Regions from separate parts of the Homo sapiens genome. Here regions 1 and 3 are each linked to region 2. Evidence: fine-mapped expression QTL. A gene starts in region 2. Each other region holds a variant in brackets. All regions are shown on one strand. Distances are from middle to middle.

Region 1 (8,184 bases), 130 kb after region 2:
GGTGTGAGCCAACATGCTCAGCCTGTTACACACACACAAACATATATATTTTTAAGACAGAGTTTCACTCTTATTGCCCAGGCTGGAGTGCAATGCGTGATCTCGTCTCACTGCAGCCTGCAACCTCTGCCTCCTGCCTCAGCCTCCCGAGTAATTGGAATTATTACAGGCATGCACCACTACAGCCGGCTAATTTTTTATTTTTAGTAGAGATGGGGTTTCGCCATGTTGGTCAGGCTGGTCTCAGAAATCCTGACCTCAGGTGATCCACCCGTTGTGGCCTCCCAAAATGCTGGGATTACAGTCATGAGCCACTGCTCCTGGTCACGTAATTTTTAAATATAATTTTAGCTGTATCTTGTGTTCAGTTTTCTAGGCTACCTTTTTCACTCAACATTACATCAGGATCATTTTTCCTCATGTTATTCTTTGAGATATTTTTAATGGGCTTGTAGTGTCCCATCATGTGATTTACCAGTTTACTTTCTGTTTTTTAGTTGTTTACAGCTCTTCCTTCGTTGTGATGCTGTGAACCTCTTGTGCATAAATTATCATGTGCATCTCTAATTATTTCTTAGAGTACAGTCCCAGGAGTTGTGAATGTGGGTGAAGCCCCTGCTCCTGCTGCCAGGCCCACCTCTCAGAGAGTTTCGTGTACACGTGTGCAGGGAAGGGCTGACCTAGCTAGGTCTCTGAAACCCGTGCCAGATACTAAATCTGCACAGGCTGCGACAGTGAGCAGACTGAGGGCGATCTGTGCCTTATTGTCTTCCTGTTGGAAGAGAACACATAAATCACGTATCTCAAATGTGAGGCAAATAGCTAATGGTGTTTGTGTATACGAGGAAGGTGGAGTCACCGGTTCTTCGTGGCCATCAGAGGACCGACACGCCCATAGGTCTCATGCATTAAGTCTGCGTTGAGCAATCCCTAACACGGTTTTTGCCTACAGATACATTTGCACAACTGTGAAAACCAGGTACGTATTCATTGCATCATTTTTTGTAAAAAGCTGAGAGAAGTGCCCAGCAACACGTCGTGCCGCGCGTGTGCATGGAACACCATATAGCCTCACCATTAATAGGCAAGATGAGCGAGACCCATTATCAGATGAGAAAAGCACGGCACGGAATACTGTGTCCAATGTGCTCACCGTCTCAATTTTAAACCTAAAGGAGGGAGAACATTTTCTCATGCGTGCATTTCATCTCTGGGAGCACTTAAGACGCTGAAGCGTTGGTTGCCAGTGGGAATGGGAACTGGGTATCTGTGATACAGGGATGAGAATTTTCACACTGTACCTTTAAATACCAGAACGTCATGAACACATCTGAAAAACAATATTCAAATTTCCCTGATCATCTTTCTTTTTTGTTAACAATTATTTAAATTCTGGCACAAGCAAGCCACTTTTCATCATGCATTTGGTCTATAGATGTTCTACCTCCCTCAATTTCGTCTTGTAATTTAATGAATAGGGGAACTGGGGCCGGGCACGGTGGCTCACGCCTGTAATCCCAGCACTTTGGGAGGCTGAGGCGGGTGGATCACGAGGTCAGGAGATCGAGATCATCCTGGCTAACATGGTGAAACCCCGTCTCTACTAAAAATACAAAAAATTAGCCGGGCGTGGTGGCGGGAGCCTGTAGTCCAAGCTATGCGGGAGGCTGAGGCAGGAGAATGGCGTGAACCCGGGAGGCGGATGTTGCAGTAAGCCGAGATTGCACCACTGCACTCCAGCCTGGGTGACAGAGCAAGACTCCGTCTCAAAAAAATAAATAAATAAAAATAATAGGGTAACTGGGTTGCTTCTTTGTATCTCTTGAAAACTGATAGAGGTCTCATCAGATTCTAAATTTGAATTTTTCTTTTTTTGGCAATAACATCACATAGGTAATGTCGTATGCTTCCCATTCCCTTAATCATCGTGGAGATCCACTTCTCGTGAGTCATCTCCCCACAATGCTGGGATCGATCTCTGCGTCAGAATTCCTCTTGATTTTAGTGGTCACTTATCACTGCCTAGATCCATTGTTTAATGTGCTTCTAAAACAGCCGTGTTCTAATTACATAATTGTATAATTTATTAGCTGGAATTTTCTATTTAAAAACAGCTTTGTTTCTTCTCACCAATGATTTGGTTAACCCGAGTAATAGCTTGTACAGGAAAGATAGAATAAATCTTGATCCTTTTTAAAAAATTTTTATAGACAGGGTCTCACTGTGTGTTGCCCAGGCTGGAGTGCAGTGGTGTGATCATACCTCACTAACCTCGACCTCCTGGGCTCAAGACATCTTTTCACCTCAGCCTCCCAAGTAGCTGGGAGTATAGGGGCAGACCACCACACCTGGCTAATTGTTTTGATTTTTATTTTTAGTGGAAATGAGGTCTCGTTATGTTGCCCAGGCTGGTCTCGAACTCCTAAGCTCAAGCCATCCCCCAGCTAGGCCTCCCAAAGTGCTGGGACTACAGGTGTGAGCTATGCGCCTGGCCTGGAATGTTATTTATCCCTTTTTATGCCTGAAGCACAGTGCATAATCTTTTATGTAAGTTAGAACTAAGCCATCAATGTAATTTTTTAAAAAAGCAAATGTGGGCCAGGCACGGTGGCTCACGCCTGTAATCCCAGCACTTTGGGAGGCAGAGGTGGGCAGATCACAAAGTCAGGAGTTCAAGACCATCCTGGCCAACGTGGTGAAACCCCTTATCTAGGAAAAATCCAAAAATTAGCCAGGCATGGTGGCAGGCACCTGTAATCCCAGCTACTTGGGAGACTGAGGCAGGAGAATCGCTTGAACCTGGGAGGCAGAGGTTGCAGTGAGCTGAGATGGCGCCATTGCCCTCCAGCCTGGGCGACAGAGCTAGACTCCATCTCAAAGAAAACAAACAACAACAACAAAGCAAATGTGGTTTCGGGAAAATGTGACTGCAATGGTAACTTTACTGATTGGAGCAGGCACATTTTGTGTACTTTGTATTAAAACTCATGTAATGCCATGCTTGTTACAGTGACATCTTGCACACATGCTGTTTTTCAGGAGTTGTATCCCGCATTTTGTATTCACAACGGAGGCTCCGACCTTGAGCGGCTCCCCACAGCCAGCACCTGCATGAACCTGCTGAAGCTCCCCGAGTTCTATGACGAGACACTTTTGCGAAGTAAACTTCTCTATGCGATTGAATGTGCCGCTGGCTTTGAGCTGAGCTGAAGCTGATGCTGGGGTCAGACCCCTACAGAGAACCAGTGCTTCCTTCGTCAGCAGCGCCTCCCCAGACCCACGAGGATACTCACACTGCACGCCTGAGGCTCTCCTAAGCTCCTTCTTTCATTCTGCCATTCCTCCCTCCCTTCCTTTTTTAAATGATTTTTATTACGGTGTGGTCACTTATTTAGATGGACATTGCTTTTCAAATAACTTAAAATAACACGTTATGTGCCATGTGGCTACTTTAGTAATATTGCCAAGAAGAGCACAGTTTTTACACTAGTGGCATCTCAGTGAAATTAACCAAAGATGAAGCTTTGGCTTTGCTGGTGAGATCAGAGCCCTCCTGAGCAGGCAGCGCCACTCCAGGGTTCAGACAGGGCTGCACAGGCGGCAGAGATACAGGGTCTGAGGGCTGAGACGCCATGGGGCCGCTGCTGCTTATGTGGTTGGATTGTTTACAAGCCTCATTATTAAAACTGAAGGCATTTTTTTTTTCTGCTGCCTTTCCCAAAGTGGTTAGGTTTGGAAAAGAGATGATGATGGTAATATTTTATTTGTGCTTTTTAAGCCATTTCCCCAAATGGGACTAGCATGCTTGTTTTCAGTATACCGTGGCCTGCCTCATGATGGTTTGGAGATACTGTCTGTGGATGTGAGGTGGGGACTTCATTCATTGTCCTATTTCTATCTCCACTTTGTGCCTGGAGAGCTTTCAGGGGAGGTGGAGGAGGAGGGTCTGCCAAGCTACTGCAACATCTGTCACCCACTATACCCAGTTACTTGGGGGAGGACAGACACTGTGGTGTCATTAAAGTTGTTTGAACCAAAGTGGCGGCTGCATCTTTGTCCCGATGCTAGCCGTGCCGGTCTCCCATCATCCGCTCGCCCTCCTTTCCCCTGGGCTGCGCCCACTTGTCTTCCTGGATATTTGGGGGTGACTCGCCATGCTTGGCACCCTCTGCTTCCTGGTGCTGCTCTGACTCGAAGACGGGACAGTCCCTGGTGCACATCCAGGGAAGAGGAGTGTCGGTAGTTCTTGCAGTAGGCACTTTATCAGGACCTGACCTGTTGCTGGGTGATTTTAGTCTCTACAAACAGAAAGCGTTTCAAAGCGTCAGCTGTGGGAGCAGAGTGACCCTTTGCTGATGCTGGGGGGAGGGGATCTAAATCCTCATTTATCTCTTCTATGTCTCGTATTTTACTGTCACTGGAGGCTCTGTGGGCTGTCATAGTTAATTGACCATAATTAGCAATATACTTTTAAAGTGGGAAAGCTGAATGACACTTTTAAGACAATGAACATTATCAAAACAAAATGTATAATTTCTTAATTTGAATA[ATAAAT/A]TAAGCGTTTAAATGCTATTTGTAGTCTTGATATACAGAAATAAAATAATTAGGGTTGGTCTTTTTTATTTTAGGTTGTTTTATGTTGAATGTTCTATATCTTATTAGTTAATTTGTATATTTTATTAGTATTTTGGAAATAGCATATCTGAGACTGAAGAGAAATTGACAATTCACTTATTTGTGGTTTTTTTCTCAGCTATTCTGAGCTTATTTATTTATTTGTATGTTCTAATGGCTAAACATTTACATTAAATGTTTTTTTTCCCAAGATTGTGTTGGAGTCCTACCCCAAATCATTGTGATTAGCACAGCTTCTGAATGTTACTAGTTTTATCACAGGTGTTTGCATGTCACCAGCTAATGGAGTATAGTAAGATGGCCTACACTCACTGAGAATCAGAGGTCCTCGGGAGGATGCCTGTCATCAGGGGTGGGCCGAGCGTGGCTCCCAGGCCGGCGGCCGGTGTGCTCCTATCCGACCAGCCACGGGTGTTGGCTTCCCGAGTCTCCCATTGGGTCTGGCATTAGTTCTTGAAAAATTTCTGGAGGAAGATTCTTTGTTCTTTGTTTTGTTTGCCCTTTTCTACGTTCTGTCCTACTTTCTGCTTTCTGGTAATTTTGTACACAAACCTAAATGTTGACTTGGGGTTATTGCAGATACTTCTCATGAGGTGTTATCTGCAGAGAGATCTTTGTTTTGGTATCCTGAGCTCGTTAAGGCAGCTTTATCGATTGCAGTGGTTTACAGGATGGTGTGTGCTTTTGCGGAGTGTGGGAAACCAGATACTGCATCCCTGCCCATCGTGAGCCTGCAGTCTACACTCTATGTATCCCTGCCGTTGACATGCAGGCCTCCAGTGGTGGAACTGGGAGCACGGGAAAGGCTGTGGTGGGGTTAATGACTCCTTCCAGGAACTTCCTGAGGAGGTGAGTGGTGAACCTGAAATAATTGAATACGTAAGCTTTCTCATACTTGAAAGAAATAAACAGCCAAAGGCATATGGTAACTCAAATAGAAATTCAGGGCATGCTCAGCTCTTTCAGATCCACCTGCTCCGGGTCAGCAAGCATCACAACTAGCAGGGTAGTCTAGGAAGTGACGCAGCCACCCTGTGCATCCCTCACAGAACAGCAGGTTCACCTGGAGGTTTTTCTAATGAGAAATTACCTAGACTTCCCAAACACGGGCTGAATGCTGGAGTGCTACACTGTGGCATGCTGGGATCAACCCAGAGGGCTTTTCCTGGTGCTTGGATGGTGGTCAAAGTTGGTGACCTGAAGAGACTGGTGACCAGCATGTCCAGGTGGGAAAAGGCACTGACTACACAAAGGTCTCTGCTTCCAGAAAATTCTGAGGGTAAGTTCTTGAGCCCAAGTGCTTTGTGCCTCGACTGATTTATCTGTGAAACAGGGACAGTCTGGAGGCTTGGGTTTCACAGGAGCATTCTGGAGATGCCATGAGCATTGTAGACAGGCTTTTGACTTTCACATACTGTAAACCACGTTTTAATTTGTCTCCCTAGGCGGTTGGTGTCACAGGTTGCAAACATCACATCTTCAAAAGTCTGCCCTAACAGCCTACAAGGTTACAATAGTTTTGGCCAAGGTCTTAACAATAAAAATATTGCTGTATAAAGGCAACGTTACTACTACTTTTTCTTCTGCAGAGGTAGGCAGAAAACGGTAATCTCTTTAAATGCTGTTCTCTTTTTATGTGCATTTTTCTTTTTTTGAGACAGAGTCTCGCTCATTTGCCCTGGCCAGAGTGCAGTAGTACTATCTGGGCTCACTGCAAGCTCCGCCTCCCGGGTTCAAGCGATCGTCCTGCCTCAGCCTCCCGAGTAGCTGGGATTACAGGCGTGAGCCACCGCGCCCGGCCCCACTTTTGCTTTAAGAGGATGGTTCACGTTCTGATTACTGAGATGGATTGCTGTGGTTTGGATTCATCGATTGCGCACTTCTAAATGTTGACAGGAGGCAGTGTCCGTCATTAGCTTATAACTGAGGGCCTTATTTATGTTCAAAATACTGAGCTGAAGACTCTTGACACCAATTTTACCGTTCAGATAGGAGCTCCCACCACCAGCCTCGTCTTCCCTGACCCTGGAGTGGGCAAAAGCAAACATAGAGGCTCGAAGGGTGTCACAGGAGGGAACCATAGCCAGCCAACTGGGGCTGCCTAGAGAGGCAAATACGGCAGAAGTCACTGGGTTTTTCTTTCTGCACGATCCAGAATAAAGAAAGGCACACCTGTTGTGCTCATTAAGGTGATCTTATGTCATGGAAGCAGCCTGGTGTCAGTCTTGAATTTATCGTGGAGGGTGTTCACATACTGAGTCACCCAAAGAATTCAATTGCTGGCAATGTTTCTTAGATTTGTGGATAGCACAAGGTCCATGCGTCTCCTTGAACTGCCAGGATTGCAGACAGAAGTCCGCCTCCACGATGGGTGCTCCACGCCTTCACAGCTCAGGACCCGCATGTGAACTGGCCAGCGTCACTCCACGTACGCACCGTGCTAGGTAATGGGATGGCGCCGATGGACTGATGAGTTTGAGGTGATGACTGAATGGATGCTGTCGTGCTTGCATCCACAGACTTGACAGGACCAGAGCTGTTAGAGCTCATTCAAGTGTGAGGGGGGTAGTCTTTCTTAAAATGGTATCGTGTTCATGGTCATCAGCTCCCTGTGGCTGCTGTAGCAAATTACCACAAATCAGGTGGCTTAAAGCAGCAGCATTTCTCTCCTCCAGGGATCAGGAGGCCTCACAGCCTCAGGGAGGAACCCTTTGTCTCCTCCAGCTTCTGGTATCTGGTGTCTTCTCCCCCTGTCTCCAGTGTCCTGCCTTTTTCCTATAGACACCCCTGTAATCCAGGATGACTTCATCTCAAGATCCTCAATTACATCTGCAAAGACTTTTTCCAAATAAGGCCATGTATGTACACATGTCCTGGAGTCAGGACGTGGCCTGTTTCTTTGGGCAGCCCCATTCTGGCTGTGTTGATTTAAGTGTGGTAGGTAGACCCGTGGGGATTTCGAAACGTGTTCTGGTTGTACTTGGCTGTTGCCCACGCAGACGCAAACAAGCCTTTCCTTTGACTCAGTAAAACGAGCGGTGCATGAGATCAGTGTTCCCGGCCCTTCCTGAAGGCCATTGTGTCTCTAGGGGTTGGGGCTTAGCAGTCTGTATTTTTTATAGTGTCCTGGATAATCCTTCACAGGTGATTTCTGGAAAACAATTAGACAGTCTCAAAAAATCCTTTCAATGTTAAAAACTTCTAGGTTGGGAGTTGCAGGGCATTCCAGCTGATTTGCCTGGAGTTCATTTCTGGTGCTCCAGGGAGTCCTGATACCCGCAGCACCTGGGCCGGAACCTCCAGCTGTACGTGCCATCCAGGCTCCATGGAGGATGGTCTGTGGCACAGCTGCCGACTGCTCGGCTGTGGCCTGGCCCACAGCCCTTCGAGCCTCTACGTTTGCTTTTGCCCAGTCGGGGGTCAGGGAAGATGAGGCTGGTGCTGGGAGCTCCTATCTGAACCGTAAAACTGGTGTCAAGAGATCTTCAGCTCAGTATTTTGAACATAAAATAAGGCCCTCAGTTATAAGCTAATGATGGGTTCTAGAGG
Region 2 (8,184 bases):
GCCCAGCCTGAAAATCTTTTATAGTGAAAATTACTCTTGAAAATTATTAATCTTTGTAGAGTGATAATGAGATCATAATCTTGTACAAAAATTCCACTTTTTAAGGGTTACTGACAAAATGACGTCTGGAATTTGCTTCAAAGGGATGGAGGGGAGTCTAATCACATAAGATTGGCCCTGGGGTGGGCACTCACTGACGCTGGGCGATAGCTGAAGGAGACTGATTGATTATATGAGTCTCCCTGGCTTGTTGAGTTTGAAATTTTCTATAAAAAGGTACTTTTAAAATCCTTGAAAATCCTTCATTAGGAATCATGTTAAAGATGCTGAAATGATCCTGATAAGACAGATTTTCCTGTGGCATCACTGGTTCTCCAGTGGACACCAGGGGAAGAAGTGGCTCATGGAGCAGGGCCACCCAGCAGACGCACCGACCTCAGCACAGAGGAGCACCCACCCTGGGCTGACTGTGGAAACAGACCAGATGCCAGGCAGCGGTGTTGAGATGGGCAGAGGTGCAGTCAGGAGCACTTCTTCCCTACCCATGTGGGCCGGTCAGAACATTTGAAAGAGGCCCAGCAGATGTGGGACAGCACCCCCCAGTTACCAGCAACACTGAGGTTGGTGTGAGATTCACATGGGCATTCTTGCTCCTCCTCCTAGTCCAGACATTGGAAGGGTTCATTCGAAGCAGAATCTCAGACTTCAGGCTGGGCGCGGTGGCTCACGCCTGTAATCCCAGCACTTTGGGAGGCCAAGGCGGGCGGATCATCTGAGGTCAGGAGTCCAAGATCAGCCTGATCAACGTGGTGAAACCCCATCTCTACTAAAAACACAAAAATTAGCCGGGCATGGTAGCGCACCTATAATCCCAGCTACTCGGGATGCTGAGACAGGAGAATCGCTTGAACCCAGGAGGTGGAGAGGTGGAAGCTGCAGTGAGCCAAGATCACGCCATTGCACTCCAACCCGGGCAACAAGAGCAAGACTCTGTCTCAAAAAAAAAAAAAAAAAAAAAAGAATCTGAGACTTCAGAGCAGACTTACAGAGGTCACAAATATTGATATTACCAATTTTAAATCTTTGCTAACCTGACAGGTAAAAACAAAAGGTTATATCTTTTTTAATTGACAAAATTTGTAAGCTTTCAAAATGGTAAAATTGGGACATTTTATGATTAAAAATACATTCTATACTGTTGCAGTTCAAATATATGTATGAACTATGATAGTTCATACATATATACGAACTGTGACCTTGTTCACATATATATACACACACACATTTGTGTCTGGGTGTGGGTGCCTTAGTCTATTTGGGTTGCTATAACAAAATGCCTTGGCCTGGGTAATTTTTGGACAACAGAAATATATCTCTCACAGCTCTGGAATCTGGGAAGTCCAAGATCAAGGCACCCCACATTCTGCGTCTGAGGACTCTGCTTCATAGATGGTGCCTTCTTGCTGTGTCTCCCCATGGCAGGAGGGACAAACAGGCTGCCTTGGGCACTGATTTCCTTCATGGGGGTGGAGCCTCATGCTATAAGACTTCCTAATGGCCCCTCCTCTTAATACGATCACATTGGGGACTAAGTTTCAAACTATGATTTTGGGGAGACACCAACATTCAGACAACAGTAGAGTGTTTGTATATCTTTCTAACCATCTATCTGTCTATATTTAATTTATATGGCAGATTTTTTCAAACTGTGAGCTGAGACCCATTAGTGGATTGTGAAACGTATTTAGTGCTTTGCGTCTAGCATTAAAAAGAAGACGACGACAGTGGGTGCAGTGGCTCATGCCTGTAATCCCAGCACTTTGGGAGGCCGAGGCAGGAGGATCTCTTGAGCCCAGGAATCTGAGACCAGCCTGGGCAACATAATGAGACCCACCTCTACAAGAAGTGGGGGGGGGGGGAAAGCTGGGGGGTTGGGGGGAAAGCCAGGCTACTGGCACACACCTGGTCCAGCCATTTGGGACGCTGAACTGGGAGAATTGCCTGAGCACAGGAGGTTGAGGCTGCAGTTAGCTGTGATCGTACCACAGCACTCCAGCCTGGGCAATACAGTGAGACCCTGTCTCAAAAAAATAATAATAAAATAAAATAAAAAGACAGAATTTTTTTTAAAAAAAACAGTGCATTCCACATAGTAATGACAAATATTAGTTTTAAAATTTGGCTTTTCCCAATTAAAAAACGAGCAAAGGGCCTGAATTTTTCCAAATAGACATAAAAACGGCCAAGAGGTAATGAAAAGGTGCTCATCGTCAATAACCGTCAAGGAAATGCAAAACAAAACCACAATGAAATATCACCTCACAGTATTAGCATGGCTATTATCCAAAAGACAAGTGTTGGTGAGGGTGTGGGGAAATAGAAGCCTTTGCCCATCGTTGGAGGTACAGCCATTATGGCAAACAGTATGGAGTTTCCTCAAAAAAAACAAAACTGGAACTACCACATGACTCAGCGATCCCTCTGCTGGTTATATATCTACAGGAAATGAAATTGTTTCTTCTGGAGCTCCTCTCAGTTCATTGCAACATTATTCATAACAGCAAGATACAGAAGGAATTCCTGTCATTGGCTACATGTGTGAACCTGGAGGACATGATGCCAAGTTAAATAAGCGAGACAGAGAGAAAGATACTGATGAGCTCACTTATACGTGGAATCCAACAGTCAAATCCTATCTAGAAACAGAGAGTAGAGTGGTGCTTCCTGGGGCTGGGAAAAATGGGGAGAGATATGTAAAAGGAAACACACTCGCAGTTATGTAGCATAAATATGCCCACAGATCTAATGTTCACAGGAGGACTGTTTATTATTATTGTTATTAATTTTTATTTTTATTTATTTATTTTGAGACGGAGTCTCCCTCTGTTCCCCAGGCTGGAGTGCAGTGGCGCGAGTGGCGCGATCTCGGCTCACTGCAAGCTCCGCCTCCCGGGTTCACGCCATTCTCCTGCCTCAGCCTCCCAAGTAGCTGGGACTACAGGCGCCTGCCACTATGCCTGGCTAATTTTTTTGGTATTTTTAGTAGAGACGGGGTTTCACTGTGTTAGCCAGGATGGTCTCGATCTCCTGACCTCGTGATCTGCCCGCCTCGGCCTCCCAAAGTGCTGGGATTACAGGCGTGAGCCACCGCGCCCGGCCTGTTTATTTTTATTTTTTGAGACAGAGTCTCACTCTGTCACCCAGGCTGGAGTACAGTGGCACGATCTCAGCTCATTGCAACCTCCGCCTCGCAGACACAAGCGAGTCTCTTGTCTCAGCCTCCCAAGCAGCTAGAAGTTTAAGAACTTTAAGTGGGGGACCACCTATACATAAACATGCCACCATGCTCAGCTAATTTTTGTACTTTTAGTAGAGACGGGGTTTCCCCATGTTGGCGAGGCTGGTCTCAAACTCCTGACCTGAGGTGATCCACCCACCTTAGCCTCCCAAAGTGCTGGGATTACAGGCGGCGCCAGGACTGTATTTCTTTTTTTTTTTTTTTTTTTGAGACGGAGTCTCTGTGTCGCCCAGGCCGGAGTGCAATAACACGATCTCAGCTCACTGCAACCTCTGCCTCCTGGGTTCAAGCAATTCTCCTGCCTTAGCCTCCAGAGTAGCTTGGACTACAGGCGTGCACCACCACACCGGCCTAAGTTTTGTATTTTATTAGAGATGGGGTTTCACCATGTTGGCCAGGCTGGTCTCGAACTTTTCACTTCAGGTGATCCGCCCGCCTTGGCCTCCCAGAGTGCTGGGATTACCGGCGTGAGCGACCGTGCTCGGCCGCAGGACGACTGTAGATGATATCGTATTGTGTGTTGAAATTTTGCTAAGAGAGTAGATTTTATGTACTCTTACCACACACACACAAAGAGGGTAGTCATTTCACAATGTCTCTATGAAATCATCATGTTGCACACCTTGTATACAACCAAAAATCAATTTTTAGAAATTGGTTTCAATCGTGTATGATATATATGTATATGCACATGTATATGAGATATTATGTATACGTATGTGTGGATATAAGACACATGTTTATGTATAGGTGGTCCCCAACTTAAAATGGCTCAACTTACAATTTTTTGACTTTGTGATGGGTTTATTGTAGCATTAAATACATTTTCAACTTACAATATTTTCATCTTACGATGGGTTTATCAGGACAAAGCCCCATGGTAAGTCCAGGAGCAAATATTTTTGCATACACAGGTATGTGTACATGATACATATTTATATGTATTGATGCTGTATCTATAGATGCATATGTGTGCTATGTATGAGGCAAATCTGCGCATGTCTGTGTACATGGTAAATATTTACGTCCGTCTGTGCGTGTCATAGACATAGAACAGGTGGGATGTAAACAGACGGGCTGGGCCTAGCTGCTCCTTTCCCGCCTCACTCGAGTCTGGCACCAGATTGGCCGCTCCCAGCCCGCTCCGGGTGCCGGCCCCTGCACCCCACCCTGCACCCCGCACCCTGCCCTGCACCCCATCCCGGCCCGTGCCTCGCACTCCACCTTTCCCGCACCCTGCCCCGCACCCAACACCTCCCGCGCCCCTCGCCGCGCTCCCCCAGCACGCACCAGGCCCCGCCCACTCCGCCGCGTGCCCAGCCCGCGTCACCGCCGTCCTCCCCAGGCTCCAGCGCGCCTTGCGGGGCCGCGCACGCTAGCGGAACCGCCGGGAAGAGCGCCGTGCCGTCAATGGCGGAGGCGCGCACGTCTGCAGGGCCGCGCACGTCTGCAGGGCCGCGCACGTCTGCAGGGCCGCGCACGTCTGCAGGGCCGCGCACGTCTGCAGGGCCGCGCACGTCTGCAGGGCCGCGCACGTCTGCAGGGCCGCGCACGCACTGACGGCTGACCGCCATCTTCCCTCCCGAGGCGGCAGTTCCAGGTGCAAGCGCCGGGTTTGCTGCCCGCTGGGCGCCCCTGCAGCGGCCCGAGCTGTGGCCGGCGTGGATGAGGGGCAGGCGAGGCAGGGCCGCCCCTCCAGTATTGCCGCCCCTCCCGCCCCAGGGCAGGGCTGGGAGGGTACAGCCCGGGGGCGGGCTCGGGTCGCCTCCCGGCCGCCGCGTCCTCGCTGCCCCGGGCCGGGCGGGCGGGCGCCGAGAGCCTCCCAGCCCGCCCCGTGCCCCGCCCGCCCGGCTGCTTCCGCGGCGGCGCTGCCCGCACATGGGCTAGGCTGCCAGGATGTTCAGCTTCGAAGGCGACTTCAAGACGCGGCCCAAGGTGTCCCTTGGCGGCGCGAGCAGGAAGGTGAGGGCCGGGCTGGCGGGGCGCCCTCGGCTCGGGGCCTGCGCGGCCGGGGCTCGGGGCTGGGACTCGGGGCTGGACTCGGGGCTGGACTCGGGGCCGAGACTTGGGGCTGGATTCGGGGCCTCCCTGGCGGGGACTCGGGGCTTCCTCGCCGGATCTCGGGGCCGCTCCGGCCGGGACTCGGGGTTGGACTCGGAGCCGAGACTTGGGGCCAGGACTCTGGCTGGGGCTTAGGACTGGACTCGGGGCCTCCCTGGCTGGAACTCGAGGCCGCGCCCGTGGGGGCCTTGCCTGTCCACTGCGCTTCGGGACCCGGGCGCGCTGGCCGTGGCTCCCTTCCATGCAGGAGGCCGGTGAACCCTGGCACGCTTTGTGCCACCCAAGGTGAACTTACCCTTTCTGGGTGTTTCCTTTCAGAAATGCGCTTTCCATGCTCGCTCCCGCATGGCATCAGGGAGTGGCTGCTTTTCGAATGCCACCTGAAGGGCGTTTTCGGTTGTAGAAGGTGAACGGCACGCATTTGCTGATGTCGATAATCTCTAAAGTAGAGGCAGAACGTCTCATGAATAGCCACGTGTTTGAATCCAAGACGAGGGCAATTATTTGCCACCAGCCTCCTGGAAACTGTGGAGAGACTCCGGACTTACATCTGTTGTGATCGACATTAAGTTGTTCGCATGGTAATTGTTTAGGATAAGGGTAGGCAAACCATGACGCCTCTGTTCTAGTCTAGAATTTCTAGCTGTCTGTCCCTGAAGACGGGCATCAGTTGGTTCACTGGAACCGCTAAGTCGTTGAACACTGTGTGGTCTTGTTCCCGCCCCTCCCTTCCCACCCCTTCCCATCATTTCTGAAATGTTCTTTAAAATGCTTCACCTAGTTTTTCTTGTCTATCAGTATATTCTGTATATCACAACCACCAGGTAGGCACATAACGCAGAGTGGGTGCTGGCAGGCCAAGGAGGAACTGCTGTTATTAAGATTGTGCTGTGGGGCTGTGTTTGGTGGTTTCTGAGGTTAGAAGGGAACCTGGGTAAAGAGTTGGGAGAGAAGTGTGCTGATAATTTTTCAGCTTTGAGGTTCGTGTGATGGTGATTGCTTGGAAGTCACTTGTGCTCCAGAACTAAGTACTGTGCAGTTAAGGGTGGTCGTGGTAGCACTTAGGGTCTTCCACGTTAATGAAAATGTTTTATGAGATCAAAGGATTTCTACAGTTAGGAGAGACTTCAGAGAATCTCAGGGCCAAATCGCCTTGCTTACAAGTTCGGAAGGTGAGCTGCAGAACATTTGAAGGAGTGCCCATTCACACAGCAAGCTAGTGGCAGACCATCTGAGACTCCATGCCATTTACACAGCGCCGCGCGGCCTCTGTTGCAGGCAGGAACACCCCACGGGCCACGGATGTTGGTCCCTTTTCACCAAGGAGTGCATCTCTGCTCTGAGGGAGTGAGATTTCTTAACTGTTGATCAGAATCTCAAGGGAAGATAGCACGAGCTGTGTAAAAGAATCACCCCTTTAAAAACAAAACTCTTTTTATTGAGGTATAACTTAAGATACAGTCAGGTTCACAAACACTAAAGAGATCCTTGTGCAAGTGAAATTGAGGAGGAAGGGCGAGAGGGAAGCTGGGTAGGGAAGGAAAAGGCGTCTCAGCTGGAGGCTAGCGTTAACCCCATCTCACCAGGAGCATGCTACAATTGGCCCTAATTGCGGCAGAGGGGTTGGTGGCTGCAGGCTGCTGCCCCTCCGGGATGAGGGTGGGAGTGTGGCACTGCTAACCCTGAGCCGAGGGCCATTCTTCTGGGAGAGAGTGGCAGTAAAGAGCCCTTAGTAGGAACTGGCAGCAGCTGGGGCATGGGTGCCCTGGCCTGGTTAAGGAATCTGGGTGGGGAGCCAGCTGTATGTACAGCTTGAAGGATTTTTGCATATGGACACTCTCCTGTAGATGGAACACCACTCACATCAAAGGAAGACCATCCCCAGCATTCCAGAGGCTCCCCTGCACTCTCACCCATTCATTACAGTCATATGTGACTTAAAGAGGGGGACGCTGTCACTAGTCCAGTTGGTTGTTGTGGGACCGTCCTAGAGTGCACTTAACAGAAACCTATAGCCAGTGTTGCCCACTGCACACCTAGCTGCTTGGTACAGCCCGTTGCCCCTATGCTACACACCTGGACAGCGTGTTTCTGTGCTGAATACTGTAGGCAGCTCTTCATGCAATGGTGAGTGTCTGTGCATCCAAACGTAGATACAGTAAAAATACAAATTATAATCTTATGGGACCACGGTGTATATGTGGTCTGTTGTCGACAGACTGAGAGGTCATTATGCCATGTATGTCTGTAGCCCCACAAAGGTGACTGTCCTTCTGACCTCCATTACTGTAGATGAGCGTTACCTGTTGAACTTCAGGGGCATGGAGCCACTCACCACTTGTCGTTTGTGCCCGGCTGCTTTGGCTTGGCTTCTGTCTGAGAGGTGGACTCCATCCGCCTCGGTGCACGGCATTGCCCTTTGTGTGAACGCACCGTGGCTGATTCTGTTTTCTTACAGACCTTTGCTGTGTGTGCCTTTTGGTGCACATAATACTCTTGTGCTGGGTCCTAGATGATACGCATGTTCAGCTGTTGTGCACACCGCTGCCACAGTTTCCCCGTGTCGCACGCCCACAGCATCTGAAGGTATCCAGGTTTCCACATCCTTGCCAACACTTGATATTGCAAGTCCTTTAATTTTAGTGAGGATGTAGTTTCTTTGTGGTTTTAATTTTGTTTCCTGACAACTAATTATGTTGAGCACCTACATATGCTTGTTTTCCTGAATTCTCTTTGACTGCCGCATAAGTCCCTTCCCTTGTTGGAAAAATGAAGTTATAGTGACCCTTTTCTCATGTCTTAAATTATTATTTGAAATCTTCCCT
Region 3 (8,184 bases), 100 kb after region 2:
TCACCTGAGGTCGGGAGCTCGAGACCAGCCTGACCAACATGGAGAAACCCCGTCTCTACTAAAAATACAAAATTAGCTGGGCGTGGTGGTGCATGCCTTTAATCCCAGCTACTCCAGAGGCTGAGGCAGGATAATGGCTTGAACCTGGAGGCGGAGGTTGTGGTGAGCCAAGGCCTTACCATTGCACTCCAGCCTGGCAACAAGAGCAAAACTCTGTCTCAAATTAAAAAAAAGAAAAGAAAAGAAAATCTTTACAATGAAATCCCTTAGTTCTTTCTGTTAAAGTGAGCCCAAGAACCTTCTAACTTAATATATATGTGAAAATAAAGGTGAGTGTTCTGCTAGACTAACCTGAAATACTCTAAACTTGGTGGTTTTTACACAGTACAGTCACAGAAGATAGAGCAATAATTTTACCTGCATGAATTAAATCTTAAGATTATATATTACTTTTTCTTCCTGAATGTATAAATCATCCAGTCTTGATTAATGTAGAAGCTAATAGTTATGTAAGTCTGGTGAGGATAAACTCATTTCTCCTCTGTTTATTGACATATTGCTTATAATTGAAATTATTCTGAAGATGATGTCATTGTACAGTTCTGTACTTTGGAATATGTATATATTTACAGAAGATCCAGGGAAGAGAATTTGTGATTTTAAACCTTTCTCCCACAAATGAAGTTTATGTAAGTTATATCTTATTAAGGCTGTTTAAAATAATAAAGTTTAGACCAATAACAAAACTAAGAGTAATTTGAGGATGGTAGTTAACTTAGTTTCACATATTTAAGACTTCCCTTACATTACTCTCTGTGTGGAAATTCCTAAGGGGTTACTAACTTCCAAAACATATCTGATGACCATCTGATTACAGAGTTAAACTTTGTGCTAATGTGCTAACCATTGCTCGGATCTAAGTAAGTGTCATAGTACAGCAGCTGATAGTGTGGCACCTGAACATTACATCTTCAAGAGAAGAAAACTGTATATTGATTGATTGTGATATTTATTGGGTCATAATGTATTTAAATTTTCTTTAATGCATATGTTAGTGATTGTTTACTGTGATAAAGTGCAAAGAGGTCTTCAAGAGTGATCCTGCAGAGGAAGAATTACCTCATGTCACTGGTCACTTCTCAATTAAAAGTTCCATTAGCAAATGATTCTTGCTTCTGGTGTGGGTCATGATTGCATTTTGTCGCCTGTAAGTCAGGCTGCAGACAGGGAATAAATAAACAGCCCAAGGATGTGGTAATGTCATCTTGAACTTTTTTTTACAGATAGAAGCACCTAGGTCCATTTAAGCCAATTAAGTTCAGAATATTTATTGAGGTTAATCCTTTATCATATTTGAATTCTATTTGAAAATGGCTTTTTTTCTTGCTTTAGGATATTGATTTAATTGGGATGGCATGCCTATAAATCAGATTATTTGATATGATCTTGGTTATATATTTGAAAATTTCAATTAGATTGTATAACTTTGGCGTGGTTTATAATTTTTTATCGCGGTAGAATTCAGTGTGCATTTAATGTATTCTGTAGTGTAATATTGGCACTTAACAGTTTATCTTGAGATTTTCAAAAGTTGGAAAGTTTCTTTTTCTCCATCATTAGCATCCTTTTGTAAAATGCTCACTGAATTTGCTGAGGCTTTAAACATCTAAATTGAGGTGAATACTAGTCATTTTGGTTGCCTTAGTCCTTAAAGGGGCAGAGCTTCTCTTGTATAATACCTTGTTTTGAACCCTAAACTCTTTTTTTTTTCTCTTTTTTTGAGATGGAGTCTCACTCTGTTGCCCAGGCTGGAGTGCAGTGGTGCGATCTTGGCTCACTGCAACCTCCACCTCCCGGGTTCAAGCGATTCTCCTGCCTCAGCCTCCCGAGTAGCTGGGATTACAGGTATCCACCACCATGCCCGGCTAATTTTTGTATTTTTAGTAGAGACGGGGTTTCATCATGTTGGCCAAGCTGGTCTCGAAATCCTGACCTCAGGTGATCTGCCCATCTCAGCCTTCCAAAGTGCTGGCATTACAGGCGTGAGCCAGCACACCCGGCAAGACAGTTTTCTATGTAAGTTTATTTCTTCAGAATTAACCATGAAATACAAGTGGTTTAGATTCTACAGTTAAAATGGGAGATGTATTCCTGAATTCAGTTGATTGCTGCACCTAAATAAGATTTCTCGGCTGGGTGCAGTGGCTCATGCCTGTAATCCCAACACTTTGGGAGGCCGAGGTGGGCAGATCACCAGGTCAGGAGATCGAGACCATCCTGGCTAACACGGTGAAACCCCATCTCTACTAAAAATACAAAAAATTAGCCGGGCGTGGTGGCGGGCGCCTGTAGTCCCAGCTACTCAGGAGGCTGAGGCAGGAGAATGGCGTGAACCCGGGAGGCGGAGCTTGCAGTGAGCCGAGATTGCGCCACTGCACTCCAGCCTGGGCGACAGAGCGAGACTCCGTCTCAAAAAAAAAGAAAAGATTTCTCACTGTAGGTTTAGCACCACAAGGTAAATTCTTTCTGCCCTTGGATTAAGTAGGTCTTGCTTACTATTGAGTTATTCCTTCCTTTTTATTTTTCTCATCACGCCCAAGCAATAGTTAAACATCTGAAATTCATGAGAAGAATGGATCAGTATGGTATTGAGACCATTCTGTTTTTTCTGGGCCATGTTAATTTGTCACCATGAAGATTAGAAGCACACACTCTTGCTGGCCCCACTTAAAGTCTGCTGTTTATCTTTGGCTCTTATTTGTGCAATAAAGACAACAAATAATCTAAAAAATAGTGTTGGGTGCAGTAGCTCATACCTGTAGTCCCAGCACTTTGGGAGGCCGAGGTGGGAAGAACACTTAAGCCCAGGAGTTCAAGACCATCCTAGGCATACATAGGGAGACCTGGTCTCTACCACTAAAAAAAAAAAAAAAGTAGCCAGGCATGGTGGTGTGTGTCTGTAGTCCCAGCTACTTGGGAGGCTGAGGTGGGAGGATTGCTTGAGCCTGAAATGTAGAGGCTGCAGTGAGCAGTGATGGCACCACCACACTCCAGCCTGGGTGACAGAGACCCTGTCTCAAAATAATAATAAAATAGGGCCCATGTAAATCCTTTTAAACATTTAAATATTCAATTTAATTTAGATTTAGATTTAGCAAATGTAACTTTATGAAATAAAAGCCAAATGAAGGTATATGGTGTTAATTTTATTGTTTCTAAACTTAAAATCAGCTTTGAGAGGCGGCAGTAAGTAGAGTGGTGGAGGTCACGCTCTGGAGTAAGACAGGCCAGTGGGGACTCCTGGCGTCACCAGCAGAGGGCAGCAGAATCCGGCCTGTGTTGTCGTGGGCCTCCTTGGCTTTGGTGTAAGTAGCTAGCATTGGTCAAGCACTCAAGCTGGGAGACCGGATGGAGTGTCACATCGTTCAGGTGGAGTGATGCTGCTGCCCATGTCCCGGTGGTAGTGCTGGTAAGAAGTCATCATATTCAAGGAGATTTGCTGATGAATGAGATGTTGGGATGTGTGAGGACAGGAGAAGGTAAGGGAACCACCTGGGTTCTGTTATGAGAACTAGAAGGATGGAGGTCATGCTGACTAAGCTGGGAAAGGTGCGGGCAGGAGCAGGTGTGGAGAGGGAGGCATTCTTATGGAGGCTTAGTGAGGGGCAGTTGAGGATAGGGGCCTCAAGTTAGAGGCAGTATCTGGGCTGAGCCATCAGCATTCCCAGGGTCCTTAAGGTCATTAGCCTGAATTAGATCACCCAGGGTGTAGGTGTCACTGGAGAAGAGAAGAGATGAAGAACTGAGCCCCAGGGCTCTCCAAGGTTTAGAGTCCAGAGAGTAGAGAATTGACTAATAGAAGTTCAGGAGATGAAGCTGGAAAGGAAGGGAGAAAACCAGAGAAGTGGGATTTCAGGTGCCAAATAAAGACAGTGTTTGAAAGGAAGAGAAAGGTGGGTATTGTGTGATGGTACTGTTAGACCAAGTAAGGTTTAGCACTGAGAAGTGGCCATGTCATTTAGCACTCTGGACAAGTGATTTCTGTGGCGTGGTGAAGGCAAAAACCTCAGCAGATGGGCTGAAAAGAATGTCAGGATTATCTTCCTAAAGCATCATATTAAAGCTGAAAATATCCACATCATATCACAAGAGAAATGTGTACCTATTAATTAGAATACATGTGAAAGAATGTTTATGGTAACACTGTATAGCCCCTAAACTGGAAACTACAAAAATGTCCTTCGAAAGCATAATGATAATAAATAAATTGTAGGATATTCACAAGACTTACTGAATGAACAGACTACAGCTACTCAAAATGGTATGAGTGAACGGCACAGACCTAACATTGAGTTGAAGAATCCAGACACACAAAAGTACATTTTGTCAGATTTCATTTATGGAAGTTCAGAAACAAGCAAAGCTCCTTGCAGTTTTTGGAAGGCAGGATCCTGATGCTCCTGGGAGGGTAACACTGGAAGGGGGTGCAGGGGGCTTCCAAGGTGCTAGGCATTTTCTGCGCTGTGGACTAAGTGCTTTTCCATAAGTGTGTTCACTGGGTAAAAATGGATGGAACCACAGG[C/G]TTGTGATTAGGGCACTCTGCAGCAGTAGACTTCAGAGCAGTTACAAGAGGAAGGATCGGAGAAGAATTGGGGGACTGGTTATCAAGAAAACTTGAGCAGCCGCTTAAGGGATATGGGGCTAGGAAAGCTGTGTTCTAAAGATGGGAGAAATAACAGCATGTGTATTTGCTGCTGGAAATAAGTCAGTGGAATTGCTGAGGGAGAGAGGAACCACACCCTGCAAAGTGAGGGTGTGGGGTCTGGTGCTGAAGCAGGGGGCGCCACAGGCTGCGTGTCCAAGAAGAGGTAGAGGAACACTGGGTGCAGCTGCATGAGCTGGGGAGCAGGAGCTCATTCTGACTGCATCCCACTGTTGCTGCTTTCTGGGTGATGCAGCAGAGAGCAAGGATGGGAAGAGCAGTGTTCCCAGACCAGCCACATCTGCATCACCGGGGGATCTATTAAAAATGCAAATTCTTGGGCTCCACCCCAGACCTTCTGAATCTGGAACTCTAGGGCTAGGGCTCAGCAAGCTGTGTGTTTTGGTTTTTGGTTTTTTGGGGTTTTTTGAGACAGAGTCTTGCTCTTGGCATGGCTCACTGCAACCTCTGCCTCCTGGTTCAAGCAATTCTCGTGCCTCAGCCTCCCAAGTAACTGGGACTACGGACACCCACCACCACGCCCGGCTAATTTTTGTGTTTTTTGTAGAGATGGGGTTTCGCCATGTTGGCCAGGCTGGTCTCGAATTCCTGGCCTCAAGTGATCCGCCCACCTCAGCCTCCCAAAGTGCTGGGATTATGGGTGTGAGCCATAGCACCCGGCCAGCAAGCTGTGAATAGGCTTCAATTAATAAGTGTGACTCTGATGCATGCTGAAATTTGAGAATTACTGGACAATGGAAATACAATAGGATTGCCAGTTAGTGTAGGGCCCACTTGACGTTAATATCATAAAGTGAAGTGAGACCAGCCGTGTGGGTTACTTTTTCTACACCCGTAAACGGCTGTGTGGGTCTGACTAGGATGTAGAGTCAGATTTAACCAGGGGTGGGGTTTTTTGCCAAGTGACTATAATAAAGGGTGAATTGGTTGCAAGTTCAGAGTGGTTACAAGAGCCTGCCTTTGAATCTAGGCTGTTTAGAGAGGAAATTAATCCGTGAATGGAGATTTGAGGGCAAGGGAAGCTGGACAGGAGAGGAGACCTGTGGAGTCGAGGTCCTTCAGGGAGTCAGTGTAGCGGTGGTTAGAGCTAAGATCAGAGGGGCTTAGTTACCGGTAATGCCACTTGGAGGACAGAGCTGAAGGAACTGGTAGCTAAGGTGGAGTTGAGGGACAGCCAGGATGGTAGAATGACAGTCAACTGTGTGCTACAGATGTCACCAAAAATTATCACCAGAGTGTGTTGGACTCTCAGGAGCTAAAATCTTGAATTAAGGGGCAGTGACTGAACCCGGGAGAGGTAATGGATGCGCAAGCCCAGTGCATGAGATTGAAAGCCAGGGATTTTAGCGGGAGGGAAGGGAAGGATGGTCTGGAAGTGGCAGTAAGGAGCACAGGGGGCCTACCTCCCTTCTGTGCCCGGTGGTTCAAGGGTGCAAAAGAGACCACAGCTACTCACGCAGAGTGCTCTGAGGATCACAGAGCGCTGCAGGGCATGTGGGAAAATGGACTGCTGAGTGTCGCAGCATAGTCAGGAAAAAATCCCGTCTTAGCTGTGAGACCAGGAGCACAAAAAACAAAAGGAAAAATGAACTGGACTTAAAAATGTTTATGCTTCAAAAGACACCATCAAGAAACTGAAAATACAACACACTGAAAGAGAAGATACTTGTGGCATATATATGAAGGACTCCATGATAAAAATGGGCGAAGGATCCAATTGGACATCTCTCCAGGGACTGGCAGCAAGCAAATGGGCCATTGGTTCGTGCAAAGATGGCCAGCATCACTAGTCATCAAGGAAGGGCAAAGCATAGCCACAGGCTGCCGCGCACACCCGCGAGTACGGCGGGAATCAAACCAGGAACCGCAGGGTTGGTGAGGATGTGGAGGAATCAGTCCTCATGCATTGCCAATGGGAAGATAAAATGGTGCAGCCACTTTGGAAAAGTTTAGCAGTTCCTCAAAAGGTTAATTACCTTTGGACCCAGCAAACATATTTACCCAAAAACTTGCACACAAATTCTCACAACAGCATTATTCCTAATAGCTAAAAGATGGAAATGACTCAAAGGCCCATCAGCTGACAAACGGGTAAACAGAATACGGTTCATCCATACAGTGGACTATTACTGGGCCGTAAAAAGGGGTAAAGCACTGACACATGGCACACATGGATGTGCCTTGAGAATGTTCTGCCCGGTGAGAGCAGATGCAGAGATCACCAAAGACATGGTTCCATTTATATGAAATGTCCAAAACAGGAAAATCTAGAGACAGAAGGTGGGTGAGTGATCGCCAGGGCTGGGAGGAACCAGGAGTGGCAGCTGAGGGATGTGGAGTTTCTTTTTAGAATAATGAAAATCTTCAGAAATTGATTGTGGCGATGGTCATACAACTTTACGAATATAATAAAACCTTTGAATGTAAGTTATGTGGGTGATATCCCAGTAAAGCTGTTACAAAGGAATCGTGCGGTAGGTAACGTGGTGACTGAGAGAGCCAGTGTCACAGAAGTTAGAGAAAGCAGCAGTCAGTATCAATCGGAGTTCATGGATGCTTTCGTTCTAAAGCTGGAAGGAGTATAGTGATTAGAGCATGAGCTGTTGTTAGGGAAACATAGTACCTGATGGTAACGAAATCTGTTATCATCGAAGGCATCATTGTCCTCAAATTTCTCAAGAGGTGGCTCGACAGATTTCTAGTCTGATATTTTATTCTCCTATATGGCAAAAGTAGAATTTTGAAACTTGAAAGATGTTTTCTTCTAATTGTTGAAAATAGTTCTTGGTTATGTGGGGTACCTTGAGACTGAGCCTGAGTTGTTTTTTTTTTTTTTTTTTTTTTTAAATTCCTACTGTCTTTCAGAAGCAGGAGTGTAAAACTGTCCTCAGATGCTCAGATGTTTGCTTCTTGTCAGTGGAAGTGGGAATATGGGTTTGCTACTTTAGCGAACTTCCTTGTTCATGAAGATGTTTTTTATCTTCTAGAAATATTTTGGTGAGCAGGGTCAGGGGTTTCTGTGTTTTGGAGCCTGAACCTGGAAGCCATAGAACTAGAAGTCGAGGAAAAAAAGGAAGGGTCGAGCCAGGTCTGGTGGCTCAAGCCTGTAATCCCAGCACTTTGGGAGGCCAAGGCGGGAGAATCACGAGGTCAGGAGTTCTAGACCAGCCTGACCAACATGGTGAAACCCCGTCTCTACTCAAAATACAAAAATAAGCTGGGCGTGGTGGTGGTTGCCTCTAATTCCAGCTACTTGGGAGGCTGAGGTAGGAAAATCGCTTGAAACCGGAAGGCAGAGATTATGGTGAGCCAAGATTGTGCCACTGCTCTCCAGCCTGGGTGAAAGAGGGAAACTCCATCTCAAAAAAAAAAGGAAGCGTCAACTCCAAGCTGCTCAAAATGTATCATATTGTGGCTCGATCGCTGGAAGCCACTATGAGGAAAATAGGACAGGAGATGTG

Alleles and levels. Alleles are on the strand shown, and positions count from the first base shown. SD is a standard deviation of normalised expression in the study named. Not every link is listed here.
With allele C in place of G in region 3, the expression in naive CD4 T cells of the gene that starts at base 4,848 in region 2 is higher (large effect, 1.0 SD a copy in Schmiedel 2018).

The links. PIP is the estimated chance that this variant, and not a neighbour inherited with it, causes the effect.
Region 1: its variant is the best candidate, but not a certain one, in a credible set for the expression of UBE3C in whole blood (TOPMed, PIP 0.57).
Region 3: its variant is the best candidate, but not a certain one, in a credible set for the expression of UBE3C in naive CD4 T cells (Schmiedel 2018, PIP 0.83).

The regions. Positions count from the first base shown.
Region 1 is chr7:157,264,546-157,272,729 of GRCh38, forward strand. It overlaps UBE3C (ubiquitin protein ligase E3C), which reads left to right. Exons shown (of 23, transcript NM_014671.3): 23 at 3,040-4,825. The coding sequence ends at 3,210. Among named protein-coding and RNA genes, the nearest start is that of DNAJB6, 68 kb to the right of the region's middle. RefSeq lists enhancers at 7,270-8,038, 7,430-7,724, 8,039-8,184. The variant ATAAAT/A (reference allele first, on the strand shown) is at 4,550.
Region 2 is chr7:157,134,079-157,142,262 of GRCh38, forward strand. It overlaps UBE3C (ubiquitin protein ligase E3C), which reads left to right and starts at 4,848. Exons shown (of 23, transcript NM_014671.3): 1 at 4,848-5,260. The coding sequence starts at 5,195. RefSeq lists silencers at 4,340-4,689, 4,970-5,359, 5,410-5,479.
Region 3 is chr7:157,234,970-157,243,153 of GRCh38, forward strand. The region is part of intron 18 of UBE3C (ubiquitin protein ligase E3C); the gene reads left to right. Among named protein-coding and RNA genes, the nearest start is that of DNAJB6, 98 kb to the right of the region's middle. The variant C/G (reference allele first, on the strand shown) is at 4,583.